Linked DNA regions of Homo sapiens. The protein of the gene in region 3 interacts with the protein of the main gene of each other region in a pairwise test. Each region holds a gene or a part of one and is shown on either strand. Other genes may lie near its edges.

Region 1 (3,646 bases), on a different chromosome or scaffold from region 3:
TGCTGCAGCTGTCTGCTCAGATCCCAGACTATCTGTGGCATGGGCCCTGGGGGCGTGGGGACTGAGAGGAGGGCCACACAGAGTTTGGCAGTCCAGGGAGAGAGAGGAGCCGAGGAATCCCAATGTCCCATGTGGTCCACAGGGTAAATGTCATGCCTGAGGCTGTCCGGGCAGTGCCAAGGTGTGCAGGCATCTGCACAAAGCAGGGTGGGTGTTAGTGAATTTTCAGCAGAGCCCCATTTTTCCTCTGCTGGTCTGAGAGGGGAAGTGGGTTCAGGCGTGGGATGCCTGTTAATGAAGATGAAAAAGCAGAGGGATTTAGAGGACCCAGACTCACCCACTGGGGCAGGGGGGGCAGTGGCTCATATTCTGGGGTGTAGGGGGGCTCGCATGGCGCTCCTGCTGGGACCAGCATCACTGATGAGCATGGGAAAGCAGAGAATCTGTGCATTGCAAAGAGGCTTCTGGTCGGGGAGGGGAGGAAATTGGCAGCATTGTGGTCCTGGGGGTTGGTGTGGGTTGGGGCAGAACTCTGAACGTGGTGGAAAGGGGCTGGCAAAGTCAGCAGGAGGCTGAGGTTCAGAGGTGGGGCTCCAGGCCAGCCCAGGAACCAGGACCCAAAGGCTGCAGCTGCTGGCCGAAGGGCTCAGGGCCTGGCCGGGTTGTGCAGAGGCTGGAAAGTGGGAGGAGTGTGGAGTAGCTGTGGTTTGAGGAAGAGGCCCTGGTCAGGGAGTTAAGAGGCCTGAGGTCTGTGAGACCCAGGGTAGGCCACGGTCCCTTCTAAACCTCAGCACCTTAACTGCAAAATGAAACGGTGTGCAGAAAAGCACTCCTCATTCTGTGTAATCTATGCATATAGTGTCAGCCAAGATGCAGCAGCAGCAGAAAGAGCTCCCTAAATGCCCAACCCCAAATCCTTCCCCATCAGGATGCTGGCAGGGTCCCACCAATATGTTTTCCTGGGTAGAGAGGAAAAAATTGTCTTCATTCATTTATTCACTCACTCTGAAAACATGAGCTAACTAGCTCCAGCCACTGTGTTCACACAGGTGGAGGGTGTGGGTGAGAATCCTCCCTGCTCTTTAGGAACTGTAGAACGGTGGAGAAAATGTAAAAGCCTAGGCTGAGGCAGCACTGTAGGCCTGGGGGAAGGAAGGGCTGGCTGGCTGGCTGGCAGGAGGTGGCCTCAGCTGAGTGTGGTGCCCCTGTGATTGAATGTGGCAAGGGGGTGGTTAAGGGAGCTCCAAAGAAAACGATGATTGAATTATGGTCCATCTTCTTTGTGGAATATTATGTGGCCATTAAAGTTCATAGTCAAGATCAAGACAATTTGCTGGTACGGCAAGACCATCAAGGTGCAGTTAGGGAAGAGAGCATTGGATAGTGTTTTTTGTGAAATGGTCATGAGGCTAGCCAGGCCCAGTGACATACACCTGTAGTCCCAGCCAGTCAGAATGCTGAAGTGAGAGGATGGTTTGAGGCCAAGAGCTCAAGACTGTAGTGTACTGTGATTAAGCCTGTGAATAGCCACTGTCCTCCAGCCTGGGCAACATAGCTTGACCCTGCCTCTAAAAAATGGTCATGAGTTCAACTATGGAATTCCACAGATACATAGAGAGAGATTGCGGAGGACAGTCAGTGAAATCTGTGGTGTTAATGTGATTCAAGTTTTCTTTAAAAATGATTTCCTTTAATGTGACTGAAGTGGATGGAGTTTTCCCATCGACAGATAGTTTTCTTCCTTTCCAGCAGCCATTTGTGGTGAGTTCATTTATAGGTTTCTGACTGTTCATTCTCATGTCTCAATCCTGTAATAAGTCTGTCAGCCTGCAGTGACTAAATGACACCAACTGCAAGAAAATGGAAATAGTAGGGAGGGTGTTTTGACAGTTTAATTACCCTCAAGTCATAGCCCAAGCACAAACAGGGCTGCTTCGGTTGTGAGGACATCTGGCTTCAGAACTGGTGGAATAAGCGTCATTCTTTTCCAACGTGACGGTGCTTCTGACGTGCGGGGATGGTGATGGGACAGCCTTACAGGCCACCTCTCCCCGGTCTCCAGCCCCTGGGGCTCCAGCATTTCCATTCTGGGTTTTTTCCTGAAGAAACAGCAGGGCAGATGGACCCAGGGTGTGTGGCCTTGGGGGGTTTGTAAGGGTCTGTTGCATTGTGGGGTCTCACACTCATTGCCTGCCCTGTGCTGCCCTGGGCAGCTGCCTTCAGGATAGAGATTTTTGAGTTTATGGTTTTGCTGAAAGAAATTAACTGGAAATACTTTTTTGTTTACAAATCACCAATGCCAATCTATTCATACATTCTCATGGCTACCAGAATATTCCTTACCTGTTCATCCCTGATGGCAGAAGGAAACTGGTTGATCAGGGTCAGGGTGAGGGGGTGTGGGTGTGGGAACTGTCTTACTTGGTGACGCCCAGGAATTGAGATGGCCTCCCAATATGGCGGGCCTCCTCACCAGCAGGAATGTGTTTCCACAAAGTCCTCCAGCTCTGTGCATCTGACATTCTGTCTCTGTCTCCGTTATTCTTACGCGGCACTTCTCTTTCCAGCCCCCGTGCTGCCCCTCCCCTCCCTGTGACCTCTGCCTTGCTATTATGGTTTGCACAGCCCAGTTTGCATAAAGTGGATACATCTAGAATGTTCTGCCATACAAAAGCAGCAGCTGTTTTTTTATCCATGTGAAAGCATTTAATGTCCTTAGCCACTATAAATTATGACAGATAACACACTTTGCACAGACTGTATTTCAAGAAGAATTTTTTACAGCCTGCCCTGTTGGTAGGCAATTCCTGTTGTTACATTACTCACAACAAAGCTTGCACATCTATGATCTTTGATCAGTGGGAACAGAAACTTACAGCAGATTTAAGTCCCTTGCCCACTGTCCTCTGCTTCGCCAGTGATGGGGCTGAGGTGGAGCCGGAGCCTCTGGCCCGTCGTGGTCCACTCATGGGTGCCTGCATCTGGAGGGACACACTGCACGTACCAAGGGTCTCCCTCACATTTGCTCACGCAAGCTCTGGGTCTGACAGGTCCCCCGCCCGCCTCGCTGGCTGCATTCCTCTCCCCGTGGGAAGCAGAGCCTCCTTCAGATCCCTTGTCTCCCGAGTCTACCATTGCACTTTTCTCCCTAAATGTATTAATATTTGAAATGGCTGCGTCCGGCCCTTCCGAGGGGCGGATGAGGGAAAATGTGGGCCAAACAAGACTGGAGGTCCCTTGTTGCAATGAGGTCTGCAGCCCCACGTGAGGTCCCTGTGCCTAACACGTCCAACCTGCCGTCTGTCACTAAGTGCTCTGTGAATGTACTGTGTGCACGTCCCGTGTGCGGGCGCCCTGTGTGGGCCCTGTGTGGCGTCACAGTGCAGCCACAGGACAGCCGGGGTTATGAGGCAGCTGTCCCCGGCCTGCAGCTCTGGGATGAGGACAGGGCGACAGTGACTTCCGACCTCCTCTCATAGAAAAACGTGGGTGCTGCACCACCCAAAGTGAAAGGCTGAATTTGGAAGTCCCTTTTATCATACACATTCAGATTGCCTGTGGAAATTCAGCAAAAATATGACATGCATTTCCATTCTATCTGCCTTTTACCTTCTCAACCTTAAATCGACTTTCAGTTCTGTGTCAT
Region 2 (3,646 bases), on a different chromosome or scaffold from region 3:
GCTTTGAGTTCTGTGGATTTCTAAAGCCACCTTTCCTTTTTAGGAATTTATTATCTGCGTAGAGTTCCTGTGATTCCCTTGACTGTAGGAATCAGCACAAACCTAACCATTTGAAAATTGAGAAAGTAAAAATTTAAGAATATAAATTTTATCAGGTGTATCCAGGCAGGTCTAAAGTTCTTTACAATTGTATTGATGATAATAGCTTTGAAAACCATAAAAATATATCTTCTCCTCCCTGGCCACATCAGTGATTGAAATCAGCCACACAAATTTCTTTTCCTGATATATCAGTCAACAAATATTTAATATGTGCTTTCTCTGCACTAGAGGATTTCGGGGTGCTGGAGTACACTATGAAATCAGACAGATACTTCACCCTCAACCAGCTGACTCTTGAATGGGATAAGGAAGTGTTGGCCAACAATAAAAGTGTCACCACTGGCTAGAGGTCTCTGGTTATTCCTAGAGAAGAGGCAGCCCTAGCAACCTCTTATCCAGTTTAATGGCTCTCACCCACATACCTGCTGCATCCCACATCCCCCTCCAACAGTGGGAAAGATGGGCAGAGAGAGAGAGAGAGAGAGTGTGTGTGTGTGTGTGTGTGTGTGTGTGTGTGTGTGTGTGTAGTGTGTGAGAGTGAAGCCTTTGGGCTTGGGGACCTGGAGGATAAATGCTTTGAGGATAAATGTGAGGTTCAAAAGTCCGGCACTGGCCAGGCACAATGGCTTATGCCTGTAATCCCAGCACTTTGGGAGGCCAAGGCATGATGATTGCTTGAAGCCAAGAGTTCAAGACCAGCCTGGGCAATGTAGCAAGACTCTATGTCTACAAAACATTTTCAAAATTAGCCAGGTGTGGTAACACGTCTGTAGTCCTATTTTTACTCAGGAGGCTGAGGTGGGAGGATCGCTTGAACCCATGAGTTTGTGGCCACAGTGAGCCATGATCATACCACTGCACTACAGCCTGGGCAACAGTTGTTGTTTCAAAACAACAACAAAAAAGGCTGGCACTGTGAATGTCAGGTGAATGTGAGTGGCACTCACAGCTGGCACGGGAATGTCACTACTCACAGTGCATTCTATTGCTGGAGATGCAGAATTAGGCTCAACCCAGACCGATGGAATCACTCTACATTTTAACAAGATCCTTGGGTTATTTACATACACATTAAAGTTTTGGAGGCATTGATTTAAAATACATTAAAAATAGTACAAAATTATTAAAGTAGGAAAAAAAGTGTATCTCTTGACTATCTAAAAGTATCTCAAATACCACAAACTAGTATGTGATTCACTCTCTCACCTACAGGATGAAATCTCAAATCCTTAGCTTGGTGTTCAATTCATAGTCACATTTTCCCATAGCTATCTCCCACTTTGTCCTGTATTAATAGCATTTTAGGTCAAACCAGCCTACTCCTTGTCCACTGATTATGCCACAGTATTCCCTCTTCTACACGTTACTGACACCATTCTCTGTACTTTTTAGGGCATCTTTCCATCTTTCTTCAGCATATTGCCGCCTTTCCCTTGCCCTGCACCACACTGGACTTTATTTTCATAATTATGTCCTGTATATTCTGCCTCCCAGTAACTAGACTTTGAGCTCCTTGAGGGCAAAGCCTGTCTCTGGAGTCCCAGTAATGAGCACAGTGTGTTGTTGCACAGGGCCCAGTGCAACAATGAGTAAATACTCATTGCCTGAGTCAGAGGAAGGAAAGGAAGGTAAGACGCAGTGATGCGCATCACCTCCCTAGGGAGCAGAGGCTGAGCTGCACCTTGGGACCAGCCACACAAGGCTAGTGTTCACTAGGGGTGGGGTGGTCTGTCCCCTCCTATGATTCTGCCTCCTAAACAGCAGCACCTGCCTGCCATAATACTGAAAATCATTAGGCTCAATCAGTCCTTGGGAGCAGAGTGTGTGTGTGTGTGCGTGCGCGCGCATGTGGTGTGTGTTAATGACCAGTTGGTTGTTTGAAATATCCTCCTCGGCAATTCTATTTTTGTTTACATTTAAACAAACAAACAAAAAGCATGTCAGTGTCACACAGGTGTCAGTGTCTGACTTCACGTGTCAGCAACTGCAAGCTTTCCAAAGGGTCTCACTCGAGGGGTGGTGCTCAGGAAAGCCTGGTCACTATTATTTCAAGTCAGCAATGTGCCCCATCATTTCTTTTTTTTTTTCTTTCTTTCTTTCTTTCTTTTTTTTTTTTTTGAGACAAAGTCTCGCTCTTGTCCCCCAGGCTAGAGTGCAATGGCGCGATCTTGGCTCACTGCAACCTCCGCCTCCCGGGTTCAAGCAATTCTCCTGCCTCAGCCTCCCGAGTAGCTAGGATTACAGGCATGTGCCACCACGCCCAGCTAATTTTTTGTATTTTTAGTAGAGACAGGGTTTCTCCATGTTGGTCAGGCTGGTCTTGAACTCCTGGCCTCAGGTGATCTGCCGGCCTCGGCCTCCCAAAGTGTTGGGATTACAGGTGTGAGCCACTGCGCCCAGCCGATGTGCACCATCATTTCTATGGTTCATCGTGGCTGCGGAACAGTGCACTTAGCACCCACCTTGGTAAAGAACCTAGAAAATTACCTGAGAAAATTAAATAGTTCACACACAATTGTTTCAGGCCTCAGGTCTCTGGCATTTTGTTTAAGGTGACCTCAGTTTTGGCAGCTGCGTTTATTAAATTCTATGTACCTGTCACTCCACCTTGTAACTTTAAAGAATTACAAATGACAATGTTTTTAAGCATACAGAGCTAAGCTAGGAATGCTGAACACTGTGTCGAAGATCCGAGGGCAGGTGAAGACCACAGGATACCCGCAGACGGAAGGCTTGCTGGGGGACTGTATGCTGAAATACGGGAAGGAGCTCGGGGAAGACTCCACCTTTGGTGAGTTATTCAGAGATCAGCTGGGGGAGCTGAGAACTCCTCCAGTATGGTTTTAGGTTATACACAAACCCTTCAGTCTAACAACCTTTGTTATTTTTCCATATTACCAAAGTAATACATGTTAATTGCAGGAGGTTTAGAAAACATAGGTAAGTAAAATAAAGAAAAATGCTAACATCACCCATAATCCCATATCCACCGATAGGCCCAATTAAACTCTGTTGTGTATCTTTTTTTTTTTTTTTTTTTTAGACAAAGTCTATGCCCAGGCTGGAGTGCAGTGGCGCGATCTTGGCTCACTGCAGCCTCCACCTCCCAGGTTCAAACGATTCTCGTGCCTTAGCCTCCCGAGTAGCTGGATTACAGGCTCAAGCCACCATGCCTGACTAATGTTTTGTATTTTAAATAGAGACAGGGTTTCGCCATTTTGGCCAGGCTGGTTTTGAACTCCTGACCTCAAGTGATCCGCCTGCCTCGGCCTCCCAAACTGCTGGGATTACAGGAGTGAGCCACTGCACTTGGCTTGTTGTGTATCTTTTATGCCTTGTTTATTCTTATATGTATTCATATGTACTTTTAAAAACTACAGTAAGGCTATAGTACATATACTCTTTGGTAACACTGACTATATAATGATCCATATCGTAAAATAATTAATCTTCCATGATATTGTTTTTAATGGCTACATAATATTCCATGTATCATAGTTTGTTCAGTCAATCCCATTTACTAAATAAATGTTTCTTTATGTAA
Region 3 (3,746 bases):
TCTGAGGATCTGGGAGTTGTCGAGGCGGACTCAGAGTGCCAGGGCTGGGTGCGGGCTGTCTAGGGTGGCCTGGACTCACCCTGCACAGGGAGCCCTCGCCTATGAGACCCTGGAACGGCCCCCTGGGGAGGGCAATGGGCAGCAGAAGAGCAGGCGCCGGTGGCAGAGCCTGCTGCCAGGACCCCACTGCAGCTCCCTTGGCACTCCCCAGCACACACGCGCATGTACACACACAGGTTTTCCAAGTGTTCAGGTTTACTGAGAGCATTAGGGGCAACAAGGGAGCCCTGGGCATCTGGGGACAAGGCCTGGCATTTGCCTGGACAGTGGCCCTGCAAGCAGCCAAGGATGGGGTCTCCACCACCTGTGCAGAGAGAGACAGGCACAGACGTGAGTGCAGCGTCCACGGCCTCCTTTGGGGCCCACGAGTGGTCAGGCCTCCCTGGGAGGGGGCATCCCCATCCCGAGGGTGGAACCAGGAGGCAGGATAGGGGGTGGGGTCCTACCTACCTGGTTTACTTGAAAGTGTGGCTCTCGGCTCCGCCCCGCCCAAAGCCTGCAGAGAAGGTGGAAAAAGTCAACAGGCTGGGGTGGAGGAGGCTGTGGGGTGGGGTGGGGTGGGGATGACGGGAGCATACCTTTAGGCCCAAACATGGCTGCGTAGCAGGGGTGGTTGCAGTAGGGTTTGCCTTCGTGCTGCAAAGAGAAGGGCCGTGAGGGGGTGCCATCACCCCTGGCCCCTGCCACCAGGGTGGGTCCCACCTACCTCAGCGTGGCCCCCAGAGGTCAGCGTCTTCCCACATTTCTCGCACTTCAGGCAGGGCCGATGCCAGTCCTTGCCCAGAGAGGTCACCCTCTCGGCTGCAGAGGCACAGACAGGCCCCGGTGAGACGCTGCAGGACGCGGCGCCTACCCACCACTGGCGTACCCGCCTCTTGCAGCCAGCTCTGCCCAAGGCCCTGTGCACTTAGCCCGCATCCGCCCAGCCTGGCAGCCCACCCTAAGGTCTCAGCACCCTCCATGAGGGGAACATCTCCAATCCCCAGAGCCAATACAACTAAACAAAGCGCGGGGTCGCTGGTCCCCGGGGCACTTTCGGGTGCGGCCGGGAATCTTGCTCCTGAAGGCTGGGTGGGGCTAGAGGGCGAGGCCGAGGGTCAGGGGTCGCGGCTTAGGTCAGCAGGGCCTGGGCCTGGCTGCCTGCTTTCAGCCCCGGGCCTCTGCGGTGGCAAGGGTGGAGCCTGCGACAGCCCTTCTCGGCGGGGACAGGGGTGACTTCCCACTTCCTCCCTCCCCTCGGGGCGCGCGGGCGCGGGGCAGGGAGGCGGGCGCCCGGGATCGCGCCCCGGGCGTCGGTTTCCGCGTCTGTTTCCACTTAGCGCTGGGGGGCGCGGCCCCAGCCCCGCGTTCCTTCCAGCCCTGCGGGTCCCCCACTCAGGGCGCGCCTGAGAGGAAACGGCAGAGACCGTAGGACCCAGAGACGGGGAGGCTCAGAGCCAGAGGTAGCCCGCCGAGCACAGCAAGACCACTAGCAGGCAGAGATCGCCAGGGCCCTCGGACGCAGGGGCCTCCACCCTCATCCCGGGGCAGGCGGCGGGCCAGGCTGAGGCGTTTTCAGGCTGGGGCGCCGCCCCAGGGACCCAGCGCCCCCGGTCCTCCTGAGCGGTCCCCAGCCTCGTCGCCCCGTCGGCGGCGCCTCCTCGCGGGGCCGGTGTGGGCGCGCTCACCGAAGTACACCTCCTTGTTGCACTTGGGACACTTGGGCATGACGGCTCCGGGTCCGGTGCAGGCGGCAGCGGCTGGGGCGGCACGGGCTGCAGGCGCGAGACTGGGTGGATCCGGCCTGGTCCGCGCCTTTCAGGGACCCCGGGACCCCGCCCCTTGGAGACCCCGCCCCTCGCGCCCCGCCCTCTGAACCCAGGACTTGGACCCTGGGGACCTCGAATCTAGGCCCAGGGCCCAAGAAAGATCATCTGGTCCACCCCCGCCTTCAGGCAGGACCCGGGCCTGACTGAGGACGGAGCGCGGGGGGGCAGGGGGCCATGGGGACTTACTGAGAGGGCGCAGCTCTTTAGGCGAGTTCAAGCCGCGCCCCTAGCCCAGCGCTGTGATGTCTCCCGGGTCCAGTTCCGAGGCAAAAGGCTCACCCGCAGCAGGAAACGCCGCTCCCACCCCCAGCCCTACCCCACCGGCACCCGCCCGAACCCCAGATCTGCCCGGGCCAGGACTGGACCAAACATCACTAAAATGCAAAGAGATGCAAAGCAGCCCGCGCGCTGATCCTGCCCTCCCCAGGACGGAGGGTCGGGGACAATTGCCGGAGAGCCCCCGCTGTTGCCCCCCACCGAGGAACCCACTCTGACCTTCCATCCCACGCAGGGTTACGAGGCCGCCCCTGTCAGTCCCCTCACTCCCAAGGGACGTCCCCGCCTCTGCTAGCTCCCCTGACCTCCGCTGCTCTGGGAGGTCCATCGGACCGCAGCGGGAACATCCCCGGGGAATTCAAAAGCGGGGACTCCCAGAGAGGGGAGCTGTAGCTTGAGGACCGATCGGCTGCGGGGGCTGCGGGGGCTGGGGTTTCGGCCGGCAAAAGAGAGTTCAGCCACCCCCAGGCCGGCTCGGAGATGCCCGGACCGGGCGCAGGGAGGGGCCCTTATCTCTGCGGGTAGCGCCCAGGGCGGCCAGAGCGGTCCAAGTACGCTGCAAAGTTGAGGCGGAGGATGGTCCCGGTGCCAGGCGGAGTCTGTCCCGCCTCACCCGCCCCCCAGATTCAGGAGGGCCAAGGGGGCTGCGCTGGCCTCGGGCTTTGGGGTCAGCCCTCTAGCTGACTGGCCAGCCTCAGGAAGGGAGCCCAGGTCACTGTCAGCCCCCTCTCCTGTCACTGAGCAGGGGAGCCCTCTCTCTGCAGGCCCTTCACCTCCATGCTGCATGGAGCTCCCTGGGAGCTCCCACAGCACAAGGGCGGTGCTGCCCTTCCTCCCCACCCACCATCCCTCCTGTCAGCCATGTTAACCAGCGTCCTTATCTCCCCTCGATCTCCACTGGGCCTGTGCTGGCCCTGTCCCCGCTGGGGGCGCTGGAGACCATCCTCCTGGGCCCCAGGAGCCGCTGGCCTACCGCTGTCGGGCCCTGAGCCCTAACTGCACCTGTGATCCCAACCTCACTTTCCCTGAATCCTACCGCACCCCTGTCGGCACCTCGAGGCCTGCACTTAGAGGAAGAGAAGCCGCCTGCCCTGCCCTGTCTGCCACCAGTCCCCAGCTTGGGGAGAGGGCAGGGGCAGCAGGGCTGTAGGACGGCCAAGGCACAGGCGTCTGGCACAGAGGCCACACTCCAGAGAGCCCCACACCAGCACACCCAGCCCAAGGCCACATCCTGCTTGCCCTCCTCCTGGCGCCCCTCTAAGGCCACAGTTCTGTCCCCCGACTGGGGCTAAGTCCTGGGGTCTGATAGGACATTCCACAGGGGCCCATTGGAGCCCTCCTCATCCCCCATTCTGAGACCTCAGAGATAAGGTTTCCAGAGTAGGGGTGCGCTCCTGTCCTGCAAACTTGGAACCCCCACTCTCCAGCCCATGAGCCTTGAAACCCACTCTGAGGTCTGGGCCCACCTGCCATCTCCACTGAGTGTGGGGCATCGTGGGACAAACCTGCAGACAAGCAGAGGGAGAGGCAGAGGCACCAAGAAGGGGGAGAGGCCAGGGGAGCCCGGACAGTATTGGGGAGGCCGGGGGCTCTGTCACTGCA

The links.
Region 1: the proteins of CRIP1 (region 3) and VOPP1 interact in a two-hybrid assay, tested with the Homo sapiens proteins (one large-scale study listed by IntAct).
Region 2: the proteins of CRIP1 (region 3) and SH3GL3 interact in a two-hybrid assay, tested with the Homo sapiens proteins (one large-scale study listed by BioGRID and IntAct).

Annotation. Positions count from the first base shown.
Region 1 is NC_000007.14:55,485,388-55,489,033, reverse strand, and holds part of VOPP1 (WW domain binding protein VOPP1 isoform 1 precursor), read left to right. Parts: intron 1-3,646. UniProt on the Homo sapiens protein: Increases the transcriptional activity of NFKB1 by facilitating its nuclear translocation, DNA-binding and associated apoptotic response, when overexpressed. May sequester WWOX in lysosomal vesicles and thereby regulate WWOX role as tumor suppressor.
Region 2 is NC_000015.10:83,565,780-83,569,425, forward strand, and holds part of SH3GL3 (endophilin-A3), read left to right. Parts: intron 1-2,749; coding exon 2,750-2,893; intron 2,894-3,646. UniProt on the Homo sapiens protein: Implicated in endocytosis. May recruit other proteins to membranes with high curvature.
Region 3 is NC_000014.9:105,485,281-105,489,026, reverse strand, and holds CRIP1 (cysteine-rich protein 1), read right to left. Parts: upstream 2,142-3,746; 5' UTR 2,055-2,141; intron 1,829-2,054; 5' UTR 1,768-1,828; coding exon 1,728-1,767; intron 862-1,727; coding exon 767-861; intron 697-766; coding exon 639-696; intron 557-638; coding exon 516-556; 3' UTR 511-515; intron 365-510; 3' UTR 80-364; downstream 1-79. UniProt on the Homo sapiens protein: Seems to have a role in zinc absorption and may function as an intracellular zinc transport protein.